2 linked regions of the Homo sapiens genome follow. The protein of the gene in region 1 purifies or fractionates together with the protein of each later gene. This does not show direct contact. Each region holds a gene or a part of one and is shown on either strand. Other genes may lie near its edges.

Evidence for each region.
Region 2: the proteins of COL20A1 (region 1) and GGACT purify together in Homo sapiens (affinity purification with mass spectrometry; 2 studies listed by BioGRID and IntAct, with this or other methods). This does not show direct contact.

The regions. Positions count from the first base shown.
Region 1 is NC_000020.11:63,292,978-63,305,341, reverse strand, and holds the start of COL20A1 (collagen alpha-1(XX) chain precursor), read right to left. Parts: upstream 12,157-12,364; 5' UTR 12,067-12,156; intron 10,245-12,066; 5' UTR 10,235-10,244; coding exon 10,153-10,234; intron 7,433-10,152; coding exon 7,322-7,432; intron 1-7,321. UniProt on the Homo sapiens protein: Probable collagen protein.
Region 2 is NC_000013.11:100,583,078-100,595,320, reverse strand, and holds the start of GGACT (gamma-glutamylaminecyclotransferase), read left to right. Parts: upstream 1-6,531; 5' UTR 6,532-6,580; exon of another isoform or gene 6,581-6,721; intron 6,722-11,323; 5' UTR 11,324-11,496; intron 11,497-12,243. UniProt on the Homo sapiens protein: Contributes to degradation of proteins cross-linked by transglutaminases by degrading the cross-link between a lysine and a glutamic acid residue. Catalyzes the formation of 5-oxo-L-proline from L-gamma-glutamyl-L-epsilon-lysine.

The sequences.
Region 1 (12,364 bases):
CTCTTGGCTCCTCCTCCCCACCCCAGCTGCTCCCCTTGAAGCCAGAGAGACAGAAAGGGAGAGGGTCTGATGGAAGGGACATGGGCTCCTGGGTAATAATGTGACAGAGAATGGGGGTCTTGGGGCGGTGAAAAGAAGATGTCACTTACTAAACCCCCCTAGAGGAATCCGCCGCATGGTGAGGTGAGAAGCCATCAACCCTCAGAGATACTGTCAAGGTATGAAGACAGGGCTGCCCAGGGAGGGGATGACGACCCGAGGGGCCAGGTCCAAGAAGGAAGAGTCCGGGGCCAGGGCCCTGCCCACTCCCACAGGCTCCTACCCTATGGGCTGCACGGACCGACCAGCCGCAAGTATTTTCTGCTGTGTGACTCCATGATTCTAAAGTTAGGTCTGGATTTCAAGTGTGAAAAGCAAACAAATGATTCCAAAGGGGACACTGCCATATTCTCAGAGGAAAGAGCAAGAAGAAATGGCCTTGAAAGAGCACTCAGGAGGCAGCAGTCAGACCTGGAGAGGCACTGTGAGCACTGGGTGATTCTCTGGGTCTCAAGTGCTAAGGCAAGGGAGAAAAGGGCAAGAAATCCACACTTGCACACCTCGAGGGAGGGAGGGAGGGAGGAACCCACACCTGCGCACCTGCAGGGAGAAGAGGAGGGAGGAACCCACACCTGCACACCTGGAGGGAGGAAGGGAGGGAGGAACCCACATCTGCGCAGCTGGAGGGAGGAAGGGAGGGAGGAACCCACACGTGCACACCTGGAGGGAGGAAGGGAGGGAGGAGCCAGCACCTGCACACCTGGAGGGAGGAAGGGAGGGAGGAACCCACACCTGCGCACCTGCAGGGAGAAGAGGAGGGAGGAACCCACACCTGCACACCTGGAGGGAGGAAGGGAGGGAGGAACCCACACCTGCACACCTGGAGGGAGGAAGGGAGGGAGGAACCCACACCTGCACACCTGGAGGGAGGAAGGGAGGGAGGAACCCACACCTGCGCACCTGCAGGGAGAAGAGGAGGGAGGAACCCACACCTGCACACCTGGAGGGAGGAAGGGAGGGAGGAACCCACACCTGCGCACCTGGAGGGAGGAAGGGAGGGAGGAACCCACACGTGCACACCTGGAGGGAGGAAGGGAGGGAGGAACCCACACATGCACACCTGGAGGGAGGAAGGGAGGGAGGAACCCACACCTGCACACCTGGAGGGAGAAGAGGAGGGAGGAACCCACACCTGCACACCTGGAGGGAGAAGAGGAGGGAGGAGCCCACACCTGCACACTGGGAGGGAGGAAGAGAGGGAGGAACCCACACCTGCACACCTGGAGGGAGGAAGGGAGGGAGGAACCCACACCTGCGCACCTGCAGGGAGAAGAGGAGGGAGGAACCCACACCTGCACACCTGCAGGGAGAAGAGGAGGGAGGAACCCACACCTGCACACCTGCAGGGAGAAGAGGAGGGTGGAACCCACACCTGCACACCTGGAGGGAGGAAGGGAGGGAGGAGCCAGCACCTGCACACCTGGAGGGAGGGAGGGAGGAAGGGAGGGAGGAACCCACACCTGCACACCTGGAAAGAAAAGGGACACCATCCTCCCTGTGCAGTGAGTGGCTCCCCACAGCCCTACCCAGCCCCGCGCCAGGGAGTGACCAGCCAGGGAGGACCCTCTGTTCTTGGCTGAGCAAATGGGAGGCAGGGGTGTTGTCATTACCATCAACAGCTAACTGTTATTGAGTTTTCACTGTGTGCCTGGCAGTATCCTAAGCATTTCACAGGTATCAAGCCTCATAATCTTCACAACTCCATTACACCCATTTTATAGATAGGAAAACTGAGGCACAAAGGACCAATCACACAGCTACTCCGCAGTAGAAGTGGGATAGAAGCCCAGGTCTGTCATATTCCCAAGGCTTCCTGCACAAACACGTGATTAACAAGCAATGACAATAATGAAAAAGTTTTATGACATTTAATATAAATATAGAATTTTAAAAGCCGGGCATGCCTGTAATCCCATCTACTTGGGAGGCTGAGGTGGCAGAATCACTTGAGCCCAGGAGTTTGAGTCCAGCCTGGGCAGTATAGTGAGACCCCATTTCAAAAATCAATAAATAAACACAAGTGCTTGAAAATGGGATAAATATTATTGTGATGTTCTAAGGTCCTAGCGTTGCCTGGGGACAGCTGAGACAACCATTATGTATATCATATGCTGATAAATCAAGGCTGTATGTTGTGGTCGCTAGTGTGGTTACTTGAAGGGTAAAAGAATATAGAATCACCAAGTTGATGGCATCAGGGAATAATCACCCCATACCTACTGAACAATCTTAACTTCACAAGACACACCAGACATTATGTACCGCCAGCTGTGGTAACGCAGGAGTTACACAGCACCACTGATAAAGAATTCTTGTTAACAAATATAATCAAACTTGAGTCTGACCAAACTTCCAGGATGTAACTGCCAGTCTATGGGAGACAGGGTGGAGAGACGAAGGAGCGAGCTAAACGGCTCCCCAAAGATGCCACTGGCAAGAGAAGAAAGTGGGAAGTTCGACAGAACAATCTTGTTTCTTCTTCTACAAATAAATGTCAAGGAAAAGGGAGAGGGGGAAACTGCTTTAGATTAAAAATTGCTTAAGACACAGGAACCAAACACAGTGTGTAGACTCTGTTCACACCCCAATTCAGACAAATCAATTGTAAAAGACATGCATCAAGACCAGGCGCGGTGACTCACGCCTGGAATCCCAGCACTTTGGGAGGCCGAGGCAGGTGGATCACCTGAGGTCAGGAGTTCGAGACCAGCCTGGCCAACACAGTGAAACCCCGTCTCTACTAAAAGTACAAAAATTAGCTGGGCGTGGTGGCACGTGCCTGTAATCCCAGCTACTCAGGAGGCTGAGGCAGGAGAACTGCTTGAACCTGGAAGCAGGAGGCTTCAGTGAGCCAAGATCATGCCACTGCACTCCAGCCTGAGTGACAGAGTGAGATTCCATCTCAATAATTAATTAATTAATAAAAGACATGCATCAAGTTAGAAAACTCTACACAACTAAATATTCCATGATAGTACTGAAACATTTTAAATTTGGGAGCTGCTCATGGTATTGGGGTTATGATTGAGTCTTTTAGAGAAACATATTGAAATATTTATAGACAGGATTATATAATGCCTGGGATTTGCTTTAAGATAATATAGAATGTAGAGGGGGGTTGAGGAGAGGGACATAAAACAATATTGGCCGCACGCTGATAATTGCTGAAAGCTGCATCATGAAAACATGAGGTTTCATTATACTATGGTCTCTTCTTTTGCCTGTGTTTAAATTTTTCCATTGAAAAATCAGTTCAAACAAAGACAAGAAAGCGGAGAATAAAAACTTATAACAAGTGTAATAAAAAGGGAAGATTATAGATATAAACTCAAATGTATCATTAATTTCATTAAATATAAATGGAAAAAATCTTTTAATAAAAAGACAAAGACTGTCACACTGGGTGAAAACAATACCCAATTATATGCTGCTTAGAAGACACATCTAAAATGAAAGGCTGGAGAAAGATTAACAGTAAAAGAAGGAGAAAGGAGATTTAATGCAAACACTACCTGGTGAAGCAATAGTACCATCACAAGTAAGATGTAAGGAAAAAAACAGCACTAGAGAGATAATGAAGAGCATTTCAAAATGAAAAAGGGTCAACCTACCAGGAAGATACAATCATTCTAAGTTTGTATGTACCCAATAACAGAGCCTCATGCATAAAGCAAAGAACAGTAAGACAACCACAAGAAAGACACATCTACAATTAGAATGGAGATTTGAAATACTTTTTTCAGTAACAGCATAAGTAGACCCCAAACATAGTAACTATATAAAAAATCTGAAAAATAAGGTAAATGACTTAATTAGAACATTAGAAAACTCTACCCAACAACTGCAAATTGCATATATTTTCAAAGTCACATGGAACATTGACCAAATTGATCATATGCTGGACCATAAAGCGAGGTACTTTTTTTTTGAGACGGAGTCTTGCTCTGTCACCCAGACTGGAGTGCAGTGGTGCCATCTCGGCTCACTGCAACCTCCACCTCCCAGGTTCAAGCGATTCTCCTGCCTCAGCCTCCCGAGTAGCTGGGATTACAGGTGTGTGCCACCACGCCCAGCTAATTTTTGTATGTTTAGTAGAGACGGGGTTTTGCCATGTTGGACAGGGTGGTCTCAAACTCCTGTCCTCAAGTGATCTGCCCACCTTGGCCTCCCAAAGAGCTGGGATTATAGGCGTGAGCCACCACGCCCGGCCAGCAAGGTACTTTCCAAAGGACTGAAAGCATATTGTACATTTCTGGCCACAATGCAATGAAGGAAGAAATCCAAAACAAAAAATAAGTAGAAAATCCCCCATGTTTTAAAACTGAGAAACACACTTCTAAGTAGCCTATGGGTCAAATAAAAATATCGTAACAAAAATTAGATATTTTTACCTGAATGATAATGAAAATTCTACATATCAAAATGCAGCTATAGCTACTGCTTAGAAGAAAATTCAATAGTTTTAACTTTATATCTTGTAAAAGGGCAGAAAATCAATGAACTTAAGCATCCATCTTAAGTTAGAGCAGAAAATTAAACACAGAGTAAAAGAAATAGAAACAACAATAAAAAATAAACAAAATCAACGACAGACCAACCAAGCCAAAATGTGTTTTATTAAAAGACTAATAAAGTAAATAAACTTCCAGACTGCCTTTTGAAAGCAGAGAGAAGATTCAATCAATAACGGGAATGAAAAGGGTGCTATAACTATAGAGTCTATGGGGTAATATGAAAAACATTATGCCAACTAATCAGGAAATTTATATAAAATACAAATTCCTGTTTAAAAAACTAACTTACCAAAACTGACCAAAAAAATTAGAAAATCTGAGTAGTCCTATGTCTGTTAAGGAAATTGAATCAATTATGTGAAGTATTTACACACATACACACACACCACAAGCCCAGAAGTCAGTACCAGTGAATTCTAGCAAACATTTAAGGAAAAAAATACCACCAACATTACACAAACTCTTCCAGAAAACAGAATAAGAGGAATCCTTCCCCACCTCATCTTATGAGGTATAAAGCTGATACCAAACTTTAAAAGGACTTTATAAGAAAGGGTAGTTATTGGCCAATATTCCCTCATGAATATAAGTATAAAAATCTTAAATGAAATATTTGCAAATTGATTTAATAACATATAAAAGGGGATAGGCCAGGTACAGTGGCTCACCCCTGTAATCCCAGTGCTTTGGGAGGTCAAGGTGAGAAGACTGCTTGAGGCCAGGAGATGGAGGCTGCAGTGAGCTATGACTGTGCCACTGCACTGTGCACTCCAGCCCGGGTGACAGAGTGAGACCCTGTCTCTTAAGGTATACATATATATATACACACACACACACACGTACATATATATATACACACAACGTATATATGTATACACACACACGTATATATACATATATATGTATATATGTATATATTATGTTTAATATTTAAAAAATCAATCACTGTAGTTTACTACATTAATCAAATAAAGGAGAAAATAACCACCTCACTGAAGAAAAAGTTTGGAAAAAATAATGCATTCTCTTGACAAAAACTCAGCCTTACGTAGGAACAGCACAGGACTGAACCTGATAAGGTCCATCTATCTGGAAAAGGCAAAACAGAAAACAGCTCAGTGGTTACGGGCACTGGGCTAAGGGCTGACCTTGGGGTAACAGAACTGTTCTCTACATCAATTGTGATAGCGGCTACAGGATTGAATTCATGTGATAAATACAAATCACAGACCTCTTCTCAAAAGGGTGAAGATTTCTGCACGTAAATTACAGCTCCACAAAGAAACACAGGATACCACTGAACACCCACCAGAGTAGCTCCAGTCAGGCTGCCAAGCGTTGGTTGCCAAGGGTGTCATGCAACGGAAGCAATCATACAGTGTTGACGGGAGTATACACTGGCACGACCCCTTTGGAAAATAGTTCAACATTTTCTACTAACGTTGAAACTATGCACACACTGTGGCACTTCCACTCCTGGGTTTACACCCAGAACAGGCGCACGGACACCAGAAACACACGCGGGATCCCTCACACGGCGTCTACACAACAGCCAACCTGGACACAAGCCACATGTCCATCAATAGCAGAAGAGATCACACAGGGGAATACTATACAGCAAAGAAAATGGACGGCTGTTACACACCACGGGGCAAACCTCACAAAATGCCCACCAAAGACACAGACATGAGGGAGTCGCCATGGTGTGATTCCACTTAGAGAATGTTCTGAAACAGGCAAACTAGTCCATGCTGTTGGAGGCGGCCGTCCAGGGAGCAGGGGAGGGTGGACGTTGGCAAGGGCACCGGGGCACCCGGGACGGTCGTTTTCCACCCCAGGAGGGGTTTGAGTTGGCCACCCCACAGTGCTGATTCATACAGTTAGCATTTATGCCTGTGTGCTTTTCCATCTGAGTTTTGAAAAGCTTTAAAATTAGCACCCATTGTCAGGTTAGGACTGTTCCTGCTCTAGGAACAGGGTTCCCTGAAAAGGTGTCCTCAAGGCCCTGCTCCTGGAAACAAGGATTAACGCGTGGGGAGCAGGTGCTTCTGGGGTTCGCTGTGCGGAGTCCAGGCTGTTCTGAATGCCCCTGACGCATTGAGACTCGTTCTGAGGAGGGAGTCGTTTCTTTAAAAAATATGGACCGGGCATGGTGGTTCACGCCTGTAATCCCAGCACTGTGAGAGGCTGAGGGGGGCGGATCTCCTGAGCCCAGTTCAAGACCAGCCTGGGCAACATGGTGAAACCTCTTCTCCACAAAAAATACAAAAATTAGCCAGGAGTGGTGGCACGCACCTGTACTCCCAGCTACACAGGAGGCTGAGGTGGGAGGATCTCCTGAGCTCGGGAGATTGAGGCTGCGGGGAGCTGTGATCGCACCACTGCACTCCAGTCTGGGCAACACAGCAAGACCCTGCCTTTAAAAAAAATTAAAAATTGAAATTAAAAATCAAAAAAATTAAAAGTATGTACTGAATGCCTTCTGCAGGGGCTGCGTGCCAGGGACAGAGGAGCCCCATTCCCTCTTCCATGTCATATGTGACGGGGGAAAGGAATGTGGGTCAGCAGAGACCAAGGCCAGAGAGGTGCTGACACTAAGGGGCTGGTGGGAGGGATGCTGTGGGCCTGAGTGGTGGCTGCGGCCACCACACTGACTGTCCTCGGCACGTGCTAATGGGGAAGGGGGCCTGGGAGGGGCAGGTCCTCACCTGCCATGGGCTTCACCTGCACCAGGTAGCCGAGGCCGCTCCCCTCCGACTCTCTCCACTTCATCTGCAGCCGGTCCTCAGGCAGCACAGCCAGCCTCAGGAGACCGCTTGCTACAGAAACAGGACATAGTGGTCAGGACTGACCTGGCCTCCCCATCCACCTAATCAGCTGTGGGGGTACAGGCATCCTGCCCTCAGCATTTGGGAGGAACACAGTCCTATCCCGGGGGACCCCGAAGAGACAGAAGCCCACCCAGGGTGTCTGAGGCGGACTCAGCCCCACTTGGGGATACGAGGCCTCGCCTGGGCGCTGAGGAGAACCCGGCCCTCCCCGGGGTCCGCAGTCACAGGGCCACCCTGGTAGCTTTGGTGAGAGGGAGTCCAGTCCCACCCAGGGAGGCCCCAGCCTGGCTCTCCGGGGGTCCTCCCACCAGGAAGAGGCTCAGGCCCATGTCTGGGAGGACAGCAACCACCCCACTGATGATCGGAGGCCCCGAGCCAACACAGCAGCTGGCAACCTGCCCAGGGCCCTGAGCTGAGTCCCCTGAGCTGGGGCCCCTGGGCTGAGTCCCCGGGCTGGGTCCCCTGAGCTAAGTCCCCTGGGCTGGGGCCCCTGGGCTGAGTCCCCTGGGCTGGGTCCCCTGAGCTGAGTCCCCTGAGCTGGGTCCCCTGGGCTGGGTCCCCTGAGCTAAGTCCCCTGAGCTGGGGCCCCTGGGCTGAGTCCCCAGGCTGGGTCCCCTGAGCTAAGTCCCCTGGGCTGGGGCCCCTGGGCTGAGTCCCCTGGGCTGGGTCCCCAGGACAAGTGGCCATGCAGCTGCAGACCCCTAGCTGCCAAGGTCACTGCCAGGTGCACGTGCCGCCTCAGTGGGGAGTGTGGGTGCAGAATCCCACACTGGAAGTGTGTGCACATTGGCACGTGTGTGCACGTTGGTACATGTGTGCGTCCATGCCAAGACGAGGCTGCCTCCCGCGATGGGGGATGGGTGTCCAGGCCATCTGAGAGGAAGAGGGGGCGGCAGGGGCCTGGCCAACCTCCCAGGGCTCTGGAGAGGGTTGGTGCCCCCTGAAAGCTTCCGGGGCTCTGCAGTAGGGGCAGCTATTTTTGGAAAATGGGGACAGAGATGGGCTTCTTTGGGCTGCCCCCCGGAAAGCTGGGGCTCGGGGGGAAGAGCAGGGGCTGGGGGGCACTGGGGCAGACACAATGACCCATTCAGAGCAGGCAGCAGCTGGGCCGGGTCTCCGGATGGGGCTGAAAGGCAGGAATGTGTGGGGGATGAGGAGGGGGCTCTGAAGGCCAGCTGTGAGCAGGGCCCCTCCCGCAGCCCCTGCTTGTGAAGAGCCTTCTGTTGCTCCACTCTGCCTGAGAACGTCAGGGACCCCTTCCCCAGCTCCCTGCTGGAGGACAGCACTGTTGGGGCCTGAGCAGGGCACTGGGCAGACAGCGGCTGGTGGGAAGGGCCCCACCCAGGACCACGCTCCCCTCCCTGGACTGTGGCCGCACCCAGCCTGGGCCATCCTGGGAAGGGCTGCCCCAGCGTGTGGGCTCCCACCCGTCCTGGGCTGGACTCAGTGCCCCCAGCCCACCTGGCTGTCCTCAGGGACTCAATGGCCCCCGAAAGGCCCTTGTGAGGGGTGGCCCCATCATGCTGAATCCTGAACTAGATAGAACTAGATTTGCCTTCGCCTAAACTCAAGTTGTTTCTGTAGAAGCAACTTACTGATTTGGCTCAAATTGACAGTGCAAGCTTCTTTCAAACTGAAATCTCAGCCCCCACTGGCCCCAGGGCAGGGTTACCCTGTCTGAGCTGAGGGGACCAAGGCACCTGCTCATGCAATGGTCTGTTGCCTGTGTGCAGGGCAAACCTGGCACATCAGCATGGCAAGACAAGCCGTGAAACCCGGAAGGGTCTCAACAGGCGGCTCCACGCTACACCGGGGCTCCCGCATCTCACCCGCCCTTCTGCAATGGCAGCGGCACCTGGAGGCTCCCTCGCCCCGGCCTGTCAGGCCCTGGTGGGGGTGCTTTAAACGCACAGTAGAAGGGGGAGCTGCCTTTCACCCCAGCGGAACAAAACCATCGCTCAGTGGGAGCCCGGAACCTCCCAGGAGCTTGCAGGTGCCGGGAGGCGCCGCGTTGGCCCAGCCCAGGGACAAGTTTACAGCGTGGCCGAGGCCCCGGAGCCTTCTCCATAGACACGGAAATTCACCTTCCTAGAGTCAATCTAAACCCACATTTCTCAACAGGAGGAAGAAGCTGCTCAGACAGGTGAGCCCACAGCATCCTCTGCCATTTCCCTTTGCTGCCATGGGCGGTGCCCTACGTTACCCAAACGCCCCAACCAGTAGCAGCCAGACTGGAGGGGCCTTCTGAGGACGTGGTGCTGTCGCCCAGGGATGCGCACGGAGGGGGTGGTGCTGCGTGGAAATGCGAGTGCCGCACCGAGAGAAGCCAGAGGGCTATGTGCCCAAAACACCAGTGGGAGGCGGCGGTGGGAAGCAGGCAGGAGGGAAGGGAAGGCGGCTCCATCTTTACCCCAGCCTCCTGCTTCCTAGAGACTGCTCCGAAAGGTGTTCGTGGAATAACTCTCGGCCAAGCATTAATATAACAGAGAACTAAACCACAGAGATGTGCTCCCAAGGCGAGGCTGAAGGTTTGGCGGGAGCACACGCTCCCTCCCGTCTTGCCTTTGTTGTGGGAGCTGCTGTGAATTCAGCACGCATTCAACTTAGGAGGAAGACGGGGCTCAGGGGCGGAGGGCTCGTCCCGCGTGGGCACTGGTGGGGCAGGCGTGGCCTCGGGGCAAGCAGGGGCCCACTGCCAGTGTCCTTACCTTGAACTTGCTCTCTTCCCAGGGTGGCGCCCAGCCACAGCCAGAGGCAGAGGCCGAGGTGTGCAGGGTCTCCGGAGCTCATGGTGCTCGGGCTGTGGCAGGGAAGAGGCCATGCCCTTCAGCCGTCCCCCCGTCTGTCCTCTCCCTGACCACAACGCCAGAGCTTCTCCAAATCCTCGAGGGCCAGGCAGCCTGTCCCCACACCGGGCTCCACCCCTCACATGTGTGAGGACCAGAGGCCTGCAACCTGTTGTCTAGGGGATACCTCCCAGCTGCCTAAAACTCAAGGACCCAAGGCTAGAGCTGGGGCTGCCTCCCACTCCCACCCCACTCTTGGCATTTACACCACCGGGGGCTGCTCTGAGTGACAACAGGACCCCCAGCCCCCAGTTGTCCCCACGCCCAGTGCAGGGGTGGCTGGGACGGGCACGGGGCCTCCTGCTTGTGGGGCTCCCGAGGGCCACGGAGGGCTGAGGCAAGGGGCGAGCTCTCCAGGCAATGTCTGATTGCTGGACATGTGGAGTCCCTGTGGCCCCAGCCTCGCCCTGGAGGCGGAAGGGTCATCAGAGACCTGTGGAGGAGAGTGAGAGCTGCCTAGTAGGAGTGGGGAGCGGGTGGGTCTGGGGGACGCCAGCCGGGGGTGCAGGGTGTGTGTGCCACGGGCACACGGCTCTGAGGCCGAGACAGGGAGGCCGCCAGGGCCACTGGAGAGCTGAGTGGGCTACAAGGAGGACCAGAAAAAACCAGGCCCGGCCCACTCAAAGGGGCTGGGAGTGGAGGTTGGATTTGGGGTGCTCTGAGGAGCAGCTGAGGGGGACTCAGAGGCCAGGGTAACCCAGTGACCAGTGCCCAGAGGTGCCACTCGGAGAGGTGGGGAGCATGTCAGCTGCCAGGCCCGAGTCCTCCACCTGCCACCACGCCCAGGGCTGAAGAAGAAATGCCGGGGGTTCACTTGCACTCCGTTCCCCTGCACCCCCAGTCCCCTGCACCCCCAGTCCCCTGCACGCCCCCTCCCCCGCACTCCCCTCCCCCCGCACTCCCCCTCCCCTCACACTCCGCTCCCCTGCACTCCCGCTCCCCGAGACTGCTCATGCCAGCCCCTCACCCCACGCACCAACTCGGGCCTTCAGAAAGCAGACAGAGCACTCCCGGCAGGCCGGGCCCCTACCCCTCTGTGCTGAGCTGAGGGCATGGCTTGAGTGCAGGCCCTGGTTCTGTGAGCCCCAGCCTCCCACACAGTAGGGTTCTAGGGTCCTGAGTGACCCAGGCCCTCCCACCCCCTGCAGCCGAACAGAGACCCCCCCAATACACGCCCCCTCCCAGTGTGTGACCCCAGTATCCCCACCAGGGAATCTGCTCCTCTGCAAGGGAAAGGCCTCACCCGGCGGGAAAGCCACCGGCTTAAATCAGGGATTTCATGCCCGCCCGGCCGGCCAAGGGCAGTCAGGTAAGACCCAGGCATTGGAACAGGAGGCACCTGAGGGCTGGGCTCCCAAACTGATCACAGAGGCACCAGTGGGCAGCCCGAGTGCCCCCAAGTCCCTGGATCCTCCCACCCCAGAAACCTGGCTTGACTCAGTGGGACCCCTGCCAGGGCCACAGGCATCCAGCCTGAAGTGCAAGCCGCTCTCTGCTCGATGTGCACCCTCCTCGTTCCCCCACAGCCCTGGATGTTGTCTGAGACCCCCAGAAGGGAGCCCTTGGTGAGAGCTCAGGCAGCCCCGGGCTCCCACTGCCCCGGCCCCTCCTGGCCACACCCTGTGCGTGCTGGGCACCCCGGTCCTGTGGCTCACAGGGGCACTTGGCCTCTATCTAGACTTTTCTGAAAGTCAGTCACCCTCAGATCACAGGCTGAGTGGATCTCCTGGCAGCCCCTTATCCACCCAGCCTCAGGACCACAGGGAAGTCACCCACCTCCTCCTACTCCTGGGACCCCAGTCCTCTCTCCTGGGGTGTGCTGGTCCACTCTGGTCCTGCTGTGGCCACAGGAAGGCTGGAGCTTATGAAAGGCTTCTCCTCCACAGAAGTCACTGCCCCAGCCCACCCCCCGACCCACCCCTCGGCCTGCCTCTCTCTCCTCCCCTCCCTTTGCCCTCCACCCTTCCTGTCTGCCGCCCCGGGCATCTCTCCAAGAACGGGGACCACAAAGATCCCAGCACGAAGGACCCCACTGCACAGCAGGGCAGGGTCCCACCAGTGAGGAGGCAGGGGC
Region 2 (12,243 bases), on another chromosome or scaffold:
CCAGGCCCGGTCAAGCTTATGCACTGATTCCCCAGTTCTTGTCTTACACCCAAGAAGAATGAGGATGCACTGACAATCAAAGCGTGAGCAAGGCGGGGTTACTGAATGATGAAATAGCTTTCATGGAGAGGGGACGCCGGGGTGGTGCCCCTACCCAAAGGTGGGAAAGTTCCCCTAATATGGCTGAGTCTGAGGCTTTTTATGGGCTCAGAATGGAGAAGGGGCAGGCTGTAGGTAATATTGGAAAAGGCAACATTTGATTAGTTAAAAGGCATAATTCAGAAAGAATCAATTGGGAAAGGATGGGCAAAAAGGAACAGAAGTTCTCACTCTGGGTTGCAGACTTCATCCGGGACCGGCAATCCGATCTTTCAGCTTTCAGGCTGTTTTTGGCCTGAAGGTGGCGTTTCACTGGGGACCTGCCCTACCTGCCTAGGCATTTGGCTGCCTCCTGTCACTATCAGTAGTTGTCCTTGCTTTGGTTAATTTCTCCTCTATGAAATAAGATTGGACTAACCCAGGAGTCTTCAAAAATACCTAGATGCTTTATCCTTTTTTAAAAAAACATGAACTCTTATAGAGAAGTCCACTGGAAGAAGTTATAAAGGTGAGCTGCTTTGCATGCTTATGCAAATCCTCATCAAAATCTGTTGTGAAATATCATAATGTTTGAAATGCCAACACCCGCATGGAAATAAAGTATTTTGAAGGTTTCTAGTCCTGATATGGCCTGATCAGTTAAAAAGGTATCTCAGACTGAAAAAGTAAACTTCTGCCCCCTGCCATCCATCAGGCTGAGATAGCACAGATAACGACAGCAGCAGAGGGAGCGGGAAATACGTCCTCCAAGGACACACGGATGTCATATCAGGTCAAATCACCCCCGTCCTTGGGTGCTTGCTGCTTTCTTACTCACTGAGAGGCTTCCTTCTGGAAAAGCATTGACTATCAGAAGGTTTGCTGTTTGAAATCATCAGGACGGAACCATCTCAACTTACCCGGGGGATCCGAGTCTCCTTGAAACAAACAAGCAGCCTCTATTTCCAACCTGGGTGCAGAACTTCCCTTAAAGGGTTTCTGGGTGTGCCAGTCTGCATCTATATTAACTCTAGTCTCCAAGGATGTAGACCCCCAGACTCCAGACCTGATGTTGATCTGTACTCACAGCTCTGTCTGCCTTGAACCTGTCAAAACACTCTTTCCTTTAAATTTCACCTACACGCCACCCCTCCCCTAAGTCTTCAAACTTTACCTTTGCTGAGGCATCCCAGGATTCCTCTGGCCTCAGTCTTCTCTCCTTGCAATGAGCCAATAAATCTGACTTTATCCAACTACAGTTTTGCACCTGGTGGTCTTTGATTGGGCCCAGACAGGCCACGTGCCAATCAAAGCAGAAGAAATTCTCCCTGGTCTTTACTATTTCATGCAAGAATAAGGATCAAATGGATCGTGTGTGTGAAAGTGCTTCACTGAGAGAACTACATGTATAGGATTACTTACTGGAACTAATAATTTTAACAAAGAGGTTCAAATATAAATGATAAGTCCTGATAATATACAGTTCAGGGTATATTACCCAGCTTCCCCGTTTAAACCTCATGGTAAGAGAACAGGTTTTCGGCTCAGCTGGGTGTGAGTTCAAGCCATTGCACGCTTATTTACAGTGTACCTTTGAGTGAGTTATTTTACCTCTCAGAGCCATTTCACAGGTAGAATGGGGATAATAATATCTGGTTCATACTATTGTTCAAAGGATGACACGAGAAGAGTCATGTCGTGCCTGGCATATGAGGCCCACTCAATATGCCTTAATTCCCCACATTGACCACTCAAAGAGAACCCAGCTACATTTCATTTTGTAATGTCTACATTTCTAGACACCAGATTAGCATTATTTCCTTTTAAAAGTTACTGCTTGAATAGCAGGGCAGTGACTTGATTGGCAGCAAGGTGATAGGGTTAGAGAGGCTGTGGCCTGCCTACAGCTCTTTCAATGTCATTAGCTTTGAGCATGGTGGATAGTATATTTGGCTGGTCAGATTACTTCTGAGAATTCTTATTCTCCTATTCATGATTGGGGATTTATTCAACAAAGCTAAGGAAATAACCTCATATAGTGCTTTCTTCCGGTCTTTGCTTGTTGTTCCTGAAATTACAGAAGATGGCAAGAATAGCATAAACCATCTCAACTGCAATTGCTTGGAAAATTTCATACACTTTTTAAAAAAGATACTGCATATCTTTTGTGGAGAAAAGGTCAATGCCTTATTCACAAAAACCTGCCGGCAACCCACATCATCTTTAAAACATTAATTCTAGAAATACTGGGATTGAATTTAAAGTGAGCGAACTTAGCTTCGTGAGGTTGGTTTTCTCTGCTCGTTAATTTGTCATGGAAATTGTTTAGCAGTGAGACCTGTTGTAACAAGTAAAATAATCACACAGAAAGAAATAATAATCCTGCTGTTTTCAAATTTAACAACTTTTTAGAGCCGGGTTTAGAAGTGGAAGTAAGGAATCCAATGGTTTGCAGAATATACACTATTTGCTATCTTTTGCACACGCATTTTCTAAATTAGCCTACTAATCCTATGCTGAAATTTGAAAGTCTTCTTGTTAAGTTCATACTGGTTTACACAGGGAAATGATCAGAAAGTAAACCTCACGGCACGAGGTGCTTGAAACATACACACAAAGCATGAAGGTCTGTGCTCGTGAAACTGGGTTCAGTAGGGAGACAGTTACAGAAAGGAGAGGAAGGTGTTGAAACAGAGGCAAGAGCAAGAAACACAGTTTGCAGCGTGGGCAAACTTTCTGTAAAAGAAGATGTTAAGTATTTTAGGCTTTACAGGCCATATGGTCTCAGTGGCAGCTACTCAATGCTGCCGCTGTCCTGTGAAAGCAGTCACAGACAGTGTCAACAAACAAAATTCTATATACAGACACTGAAACTTAAATCTCATGAACTATTATGAATTTTTTTCCAAATATTTAAAAATGTAAAACTCTTTATTAGTTTGAAGGCCATAGACAACCAGGTTGGATTTAGTCTGCAGGCTCTTTAGGCCCAAAGATGATTATTAAATGGTTTACTGAAATAATTTGGTAATATTTCAGTAGATTTTATGGTGTTATTCAGTTGGACTTCAAGCTCCTTATATAGCCCTCCTTTTGGTTGTTTACCTCACATTATAGCTAGAGTTTCAAGAGACTTAGGGGATATCTTCCCCTCTATTGGACGTTACTTGCAATGCTGGAGGCACGCAGGAGAGAAACACCCAGAGGAGGCTGGCCTCGTTTGCATAATATTAAGTAGTAATGTATTTAGTTAAATAGGAATATAAATTAGACATCTATTACACCCAGGTCTGGAAAACAGAGCTCAGCAATTACCTGCTCTGATTTAGGCAAATACAAATGCCAAACTGGTTAATTCTGGTTAAAGACAATTTGCTGGTTTAAATCCTTGTAGTTGATAAGGAAAATGTTTGCTGAGCTTTGAACAGGTGCTGATATGATTTGGGTCTGTGTCCCCACCTGAATCTCACGCTGAATTGTAATCCCGGGTGTCAGGGAAGGGCCTGGTGGGAAGTGATTGAATCATGGGGGCAGATTTCCCCCTGGCTGTTCTCGTGATAGTGAGTGAGATCTCACAAGATCTGGCTGTTTAAAACTCTGTGGCACCTCCTCCTTTGCTCTCTCTTTCTCCTTCTCTGGCTGTTTAAGAATTTAAGATGTGACTCTTTCCTCTTCACCTTCTGCCATAATCGTAAGTTTCCTGAGGCTTCCCCAGCCATGCTTCCTGTACAGCCTGTGGAACTGTGAGTCAAACCTCTTTTCTTTATAAATTACCAAGTCTCAGGTAGCTCTTTATAGCAATGCAAGAACAGACTAATACAGGTGCATAGTGATTTGCTGACTGCATGACCCTAAGCCTAGAGGATGTGAGAGTTTGTAAAAAGGCAGAGCAAAGGGGCCAGAATGAGCAGCTGAACCCTTTGCAGTGAATGACTCAATTGTACCATTTGGACACAACCAAACAGACTTGGTGAGTCGACCCAGTTCCTAAAAGCTACCAGAGCAGTTGGCTTGCCAAGGGATCCTGAATAACTGACCAACCCTAAACTGACAAGCCCGGGACCTGCTTAGATTGACCAGTCTATTTCCTTGAGGCACTTTGTGAGTTTTATCTCTATGAGACCCAAGCTTTGCTGTGGAGCTGTCTTCACAGTGACAGCACCCTGGAGTGTGTCTATACACAAGAAAATCTTCACTTAGCACCCTCTGTCCACCTGCAGAATCTTAGACCCTACTCCTGGCTAGCTGAACCAGAATCTACATTTTAAAACAAGACCCTGGGTTGACTGACGTGCACGTTAAAGTTTGAGAAGCACCGAGGTACATCCTCAAAAGGCGATGGTTTTCAAACTTGAACTGGCATCACTCATTAGAATGTCCATCTCTGGGCCCCACCCCCAGACTTGCTGACACTGAGTTGACCCCCAGAGTCAGGACACCTCCAGTGTGGCTGGAGATTGTGCATTTCTAAATACCCAGGTGCTGCCAGTGCTGCTGGACTGGGACCACATTTCAAAAACTGCTCTTCAAACTGTGAGTTGTTTTCCAAGAAGTTAAACTGAAGGCTTCATCCCACAGAGCCTATTCTATGTTAGATTGGGCTTCCCCAGCCTTATCTGGGATGCAACTTAACACTTGTCTTGGCTAGGCACTGTGGCTCATACCTGTAATCCCATCGCTTTGGGAGGCCAAGGCGGGTGGATCGCCTGAGCTCAGGAGTTCAAGACCACCCTGGGCAACATGGTGAAATCCTGTCTCTACCAAAAAATACAAGAAACTAGCCGGGCGTGATGGTGGGTGCCTGAGGTCCCAGCTACTCAGAAGGCTGAGGTGGGAGGATCACTCGAGCCTGGGAAACAGGGGTTGCAATGAGCCAATAACATGCTACTGTACTCCAACCTAGGTGACAGAGTGAGAACCCATCTCAAAACAAACAAAAAATTCGTCTAGTCTGCGTCATCTTTAATTTTCCTTTATCAGAAGAATTATTTATCTATTTGTCTCACTTTCCTTTGCTGACATGATTTTCCCCCCTCAAAAAAGAGATGAAAGTGGAATCATTCTTTCGCTTCAAAAAGTTAAGAATTACTGCTGTCTTTAAAAATATTAATATGAGGCCGGGCGCGGTGGCTCACGCCTGTAATCCCAGCACTTTGGGAGGCCGAGGCAGGCGGATCACGAGGTCAGGAGATCGAGACCATCCTGGCTAAAATGGTGAAACCCCGTCTCTACTAAACATACAAAAAATTAGCCGGGCGTAGTGGCGGGCGCCTGTAGTCCCAGCTACTTGGGAGGCTGAGGCAGGAGAATGGCGTGAACCCGGGAGGCGGAGCTTGCAGTGAACCAGATCCCGCCACTGCACTCCAGCCTAGGCGACAGAGCGAGACTCCGTCTCAAAAAAAAAAAAAAAAAAAAAAAAAATATTAATATGAGCTAGACAAGGTTTTTTAATACATTTCAATTTAATTATGAAGTGTCCAAGACAAGAAAAAACTGTGAAAACCAACGACTTATGTACCTGATGGTTTAGATTTCTTTTGGAATTGTACATCTGTTCAAAATACAATTACATCTGCATTGTTGGAAACGTTTGGATAAAAACCAGTTTATATAAAGGTTTCAATCAGTCCACATCCATGAGAAAGTAGAAAGGGCAGGAAATGATTAAGGGGGATTATTGCTAATCTGATAAACACAGATTTGTGTCTTTCGGAGAGACAGAAGTGTCACTCTCTCCATAGCTGTACCATTCCTACCACCTGGCCCCCAAGTGGCATTGCTTTAACCCATTGTCTCTAGGGAAAATGTTCTCTTTCGATTTTGGTTCTCAGTCCTATAATTTCTGGGGCTTAAATTAGTCCTGGAGCTAGGGAAGAGGTGATGTCATCCTTCCATTGTCTCCTTCGGCCACAGTTTCATTTTAAGAGTATTGGTAAGTAAGTGGGCAGTGTGACTAGATGGCGGTCTGGACTCGGTATCAGGGCTGTGTGCATGCCCAGCTGGGGGGCCTTGGTGGTGTGTGATGTGATAGATACACACATGGTTGGCATCCCCAAGTGTGTCTGCGCTTGGGTTCATTTGTGTGTGCATGTGTGTCCATTTGATGTGGCGTGTCCCCAAGCTTGTGGAGTCGTCTGTGAGTCTGTTTTGTGGGGTGTGGCCCAGGTGTGTCAGGGTCCACCATGCAGTCGGGGCTTGAGCCTGAGTGCCCAGGTGTGTTAGGGTGGATGTGACTTCTGTGGGGCGTCCCCAGGTGTGTGAAGCTGGTTGCGCTGTGTCTGCGGCGGGGCGTCTCCGGCGGGCATCGGCGTGGGTGGGTCTGGCTGTTAGGCGGCCAGTTGTGCGAGCGGCCACGTGTGTGCGAGGGCGCCGCAGGGGCTGGCGGGCCTCGCGTTCCGCCTGCAGGGGGCGCCGCCGGGGGCGGCCTGGGAGCAGAGGCGCGGGCCCGGCCCTGCATTTCCGCCCTGGCCCTGCCCTCCCCGACAGCCCCGGCTGCCGGCAGGTGAGGCGCTGAGCCCGGGCGGGGGTCGGGGCTGCGCCTGCTCCGCCCCCCAGGCGGGGTGTCCTGGCGCCCGCGGGAACCTGGGGCGTCGCTCCCTGCGCGGCGTCCGGGTCGAGGCCGCAGCACTCGGCGTCCCCGCGGGTGAGGGAGGAGGCCTGGGGCGCCGCCGGCCGGCGAGGCCAGCCGGAGGGAGGGGACGGTGGACCCCGAAACGCGTCCTCCATTGCCCCGCGCGGGGGCCACGGGCGCGATTGCCAGAACGGGCAGAGGGCGGTAAAAGCCAGGAACCGCCTCACGCACGGGCGCTGCTTCCCTGTAAAGGAAGCGTGACAGCCCACACGCTGGCTTTCAGAGGACCTCAGCTGAACCGGGCTAACACTTCTCAGAAATTGTTTTTCATTTTAAAGATTTCCTGTTTGTAAGGAGACTAGAAGCTGCAAAAGAAATCTAAAAACGTCTCCTGGCACTTGTGAATTTCTGATCTAAGGTTTCTTTGGAGCCATTAGTGAAACTTCTGAAATTTTGAAGAAATTTACTGCCTTGATTATTAATTATGGTTATCATTGCTGTTTTACTCTGTGGGCCAAGGACAACGCCACAAGCTCAAAAGCAGACTTAAGTGTTTTTTGAACACAGCTTCTTAACTCCACGCTTAGTTGATTTAATATTTAAGTGATAAGAAAATGCAGTCGATTTCTGGCCCTTTTTATTGTTTGGGATGAAGTCTTGCCCTGTTGCCCAGGCTGGAGTGCAGTGGCGCGATCTCGGCTCACTGCAACCTCTGCCTTCCGGGTTCAAGCGATTCTCCTGCCTCAGTCTCCCGGGTAGCTGGGATTACAGGCGCCTGCTATCACGCCCAGCTTATTTTTGTGTTTTTAGTAGAGACAGGGTTTCACCATGTTGGCCAGGCTGGTCTCGAACTCCTGACCCCGTGATCCGCCCGCCTTGGCCTCCCAAAATGTTGGGATTACAGGCATGAGCCACTGCACCCGGGATTTGTGGCCTTTTTTAAAAGCAAGTTATTCGTTTTGCTAAATGTCCCAGGAGAAATGATTAATGAAAAACTAAAGGTGACCTATTTAAAGTGTAGGTCTTACACACACGTAGGTGTCCTTATGTACATTTACCTGTAAGTGAAGACTTTTCCCTGGCCTCATTCAATTTATTGAAATGCTCAGATGAAGAGCACCTGCAGTTTGCCCGTATTTTCCCAAAATGCCTTGTTTTCCTGAAACTATTCCCAGAAGAAGCCAGACTTCCCTGAATAAGCAGACCACTGTGTTCTAGCAGAGATTCGTATTGTAAAAGCTGAGTTTGCAAAGTTAAATTAATTTCTAATTGGTGGATTTTTGTACGGAAATACTTTGGGCTAGTTGATTTTACTAACCAGGCCCTAACTACTACTAGTTAGGAGAGGGTGGTTGTTTGTGGTGATCTGGATAGTAGGTAGCAGTAAGCAGAATAGAAGAGGGATTTTAAAATGATCTGTTCATTTCTCTCTTTACTAGTAAGATTTCCAATCTGTGTCCATTCTTGAAGTGAAGTCATTGGGAGGCTTTGTATCCACCTCGAGCCAGGGCCCTTACCAGTGATTAGGACACCAGCAGGCTGGTGTGGAAGTGTAGTGCAGCCATGCTTGAAGAGGGGACAGGACCCAAGGAAAGGTGACAGTAAGAGGACAGAAACACGAAATATTCGCAGCCCTCTTTAGAACATCCTCCATCTAGGCAAACTCTATTAGGAATTTTAAGAGTTCTCAATTAAACATGACTGCCCAGTGTCCTGCTGAACAGGAATTCATTCTTCAGTTGAAGCTCTATTGTCAGTAAAACTACTCAGGATAAGGCAGCCGTGTTTAGGCCGTGAGGACCTGCCCCTGGACTGCGGAGCTTGCTCCGTAAAAGGCATCGTGATACCCCCTTAAATGGATTTACAGAAAAGACTTAGCTATTGGAAGTCTCTGGGATTGTATGGCATCATGAGGTAACAGACCTGGTAAATAGCTAGAACGTAGCGAAGAATGAAACCAGAGGCAGTGTGCTGTTGGAACTGAGAGGTGAGTGCTCACTGGAGGGCCAGGAGAAGGTCACAGTTGGGGAGACCTTAAGCAGAGAACAGATTTTTATAGGCACAGGAATGGAAAGGGTGGCCAACACCATGAGCAAAAATAAGAAGCTGAAAATGACAGTGTGTTCAGACAAAGGTGAACAACTGGCGTGCTGAGGCTGGACTCCGCGAGAGGAGGGGTGGGGTCGGGGGTGGGGGTGCCTGGAAAGCAAGGCTCTCCAGTGATAACCTCTACATTTTGATCAAGGTTCTGATTTTGTTTGTTTGTTTGTTTTGCTTATTGGGAAAATTTTAAGCAAACATAAAAGCCCAGCAAAGTAGAATGAATTTCCATATATCCATCAAATGGACTTCACAAGTCTTGTTTGGCCATATCCACTTCATCTTTTTTTTTCTTTTTTTGGTTGTGGCTGAAGCAGTTTAAAGCAGTTTATTCCAGACAACATAACACTTCACCCCTAAATTGTTCAGTATGTTTCTCCAGAGAAAGGGCATTTGCTTGTGTAACCATAATACAATTATCACCTCCTGATGAAATTGACAATAATTCCTTAACATTTTCTAAAACCTAGTCCATGATCAGATTTCCCTGATCACCTCAAAAATGAACTTATTTTTACTGTTGGTTTGTTTGAATCCACATCCAGACAAGAATTTGTTGACTGTTACCTTTTTATTTTATTTTATTTTTTGAGACAGGAACCAGCTCTGCTGAGATCATGGCTCACTGTAACCTCGAACTCCTGGATTCAAGCCATCCTCCCACCTCAGCCTCCTGAGTAGTTGGGATTACAGGCATGTGCCACAATGCCCAGCTATTTTTTTTTTTTTTTTTTTTTTTTTTTTTTTTTGGTGGAGACAGGTATTGCCCAGGCTGGTCTTTTTTTTTTTTTTCCTTCCTGAGACGGAGTCTCACTCACTCTTGTCACCCAGGCTGGAGTGCAGTGGCACAATCTTGGCTCACTGCAACCTCCGCCTCCTGGGTTCAAGTGATTCTCATGCCTCAGCCTCCCAAGTAGCTGGGACTACAGGCGCATGCCACCACACCCAACTAATTTTTGTATTTTTAGTAGAGACGGGGTTTCACCATGTTGGCCACACTGGTCTGGAGCTCCTGAACTCAAGTGATCCACCTGCCTCTGCCTCCCAAAGTGCTGCGATTACAGCCGTGAGCCACCGTGCTCAGCTGTTGCCCCTTTCAATCTAGGGCAGGGGTGGCAGATGTCTCTGTGAAGAGCCAGATACCAGCTCTTTCAGGCTTTGCAGGCCCTATGGTCTCTGCCACAACTGCTCAGCTCTGCCATCGTCATGCAGAAGTAGCCAGGGGTGATAGTAAATGGATAAGCATGGCTGTGTTCCAATAATACTTAATTTCCAAAGCTTTTGTGTTTTAAAATCCACCCACAGGCTGGACTTACCCGCAGGCTGTGGTTTGCCGACCCAAGTCTAGAGCAGCCTTGGCGGGTTTCCTCAATACCAATGACTGTCGATGTTACTTGGTTGATTGCCTGTAGGGTGCCTCACACTCTGGATCTGTTGGGCTGCTTTTCGTGGAGTGTGGTTTGGCTTGCTTCTCTATCCCCTATATTTCCTGTAAACTAGAAGTTAGATCTAGAGGCTTAATTAGGTTCATGCTTGCCATTTTTGGCAAGTCTACTTCAGAAGTGGTTTGACTTTTTTTAAATCTAAATTTATCTGACTTTAAAGACTTGGAAACCCTCATCAAAGAATCAAAGAAGCTCAACATTACCAAAATAGGAGCTCAGCATTACTAAAATTGGCTTTGCCTGATGGCTGAGAAGACATTTTTTCTTTTTCTTTTTACTTTTCTTATTTGTAGGAGAGTATATAGAGCTGTTATTTCTCAAATAGTTCTTTTTTGATAGTTAATTTTTGTGGGTACCTAGTAATAGGTGTATATGAGATACAATGTGTAATAATAAACCCTCATTACAAGGTATATGAGATACAATGTGTAATAATCACATCAGGGTAAATGGGGTATCCATCACCTCAAGCATTTATCTTTTGTGTTACAATCTAACGATACTCTTAGTTATTTTTAAATGTATAGTTACATTATTACTGACTATAGTCACCCTGTTGTGCTATCAAATACTAGATCTTATTCCTGCTTTCTGTGTTTTTGTACCCATTAACCATCTCTGCTTTCCCCCAACCCCCCTACTACCCTTCCTAGCCTCTGGTAACCATCATTCTGATCTCTATCTCAGTCAGTTCAATTGTTTTAATTTTTGGCTCCCACAAATGAGTAAGAACATGCAAAGTTTGTCTTTCTGTGTCTGGGTTATTTCACGTCACATAACGACCTCCGGCTGCACCATATTGTTGCAAATGACAGGATCTCCTTTTTAATGGCTGAATAGTACTTCATTGTGTATATGTACCACATTTTGTCAAGGAGGTCTTGAGAACTTTGAACCCTTTCTCTAGGTCACTGGGAAGGTTCCTCTATTCAAGGCATTCTTTGGCCCCTCAAGCATGTGGACTGCATTTTTGCACTGAATATAAGTATATTCCTTCCCTGGGTATGTGCCCAGGGTCTGAGATTGCCTTCTAATGGTAGTTAGGTCATTTATGTTTGTTTGTAAGCCCCTTATTGCTTAAATGTTTAACTTTCTTCAGTTGACTTCCTCTTATCTCACCTCCCAACAGGACTGAAAACTGGATATTTGGTCCCCATGGACTTTCTGGTCACCCTGTGAAGTGGACTTAACTTTTTCTTGAATCATGTGGAAGGATTCTGAAGTCAAAAGTTTTTAAGACTCTCAGGCTTACTGTGGATCTGGATTCTAAGGCAACACTTCCTTGAAGAAACAAGCTTACAGGTGAGAACTGTTAGCCTCTGTTCTAGAGTGTTCATTGCTCAAATTCTAGAGCACCACAAGAAGTATGCTGACAAATAGTGCCAGTTGGAAGCCCTTGTCTCTTTGTCATTTAAGAATAGTAGTGGTGGGGAGCCAGGTACGGTGGCTTGTACTGTAATTCCAGCACTTTAGGAGGCTGAGGCAGGAGGATTGTTTGATCCCAGGAGATTGAGGCTGCAGTGAGCTGTGATTACACTGATTATGCCATTGTGCTCCAGCCTGGGCAACAGAGTGAGACCCTGTCTCAAAAAATTAAAGGAGGAGGGAAAGGGAAGGAAAGAATAGTAGAGAAAGTGTATATTCATTTCTTCATCTGTTTTTCTCTGGGGTTGTCTTTTGATTTATAAGAATTATTTATACATTGAGAATACTAATCTTTTGTCATACGTACTATAACTATTTCCACCCTATTTTTTGTACTTTGTGTAATACAGTCTCTAGGCTTTGCAAAAAATTTTAATTTTATGTACTTAAAAATATCGATCTCCCCTTTATAGTGTCTTTGTTTTGTGTTTTGCTTAGAAAGACTTGCCCATTTTAAGGTTTCTTTTAAAAATTCGTGTTAACACAGATAAATGAAAATGTAATGAGAGCTAGGAACATGTGATTCTGAAAAAGATTATTGAAGGGGGAGTATTTCCAGACAATAAATACCAAACTAATGTTGGCATTAAGATTGGCCGTATGTTGCTAAGTGTTGAAGTTGGG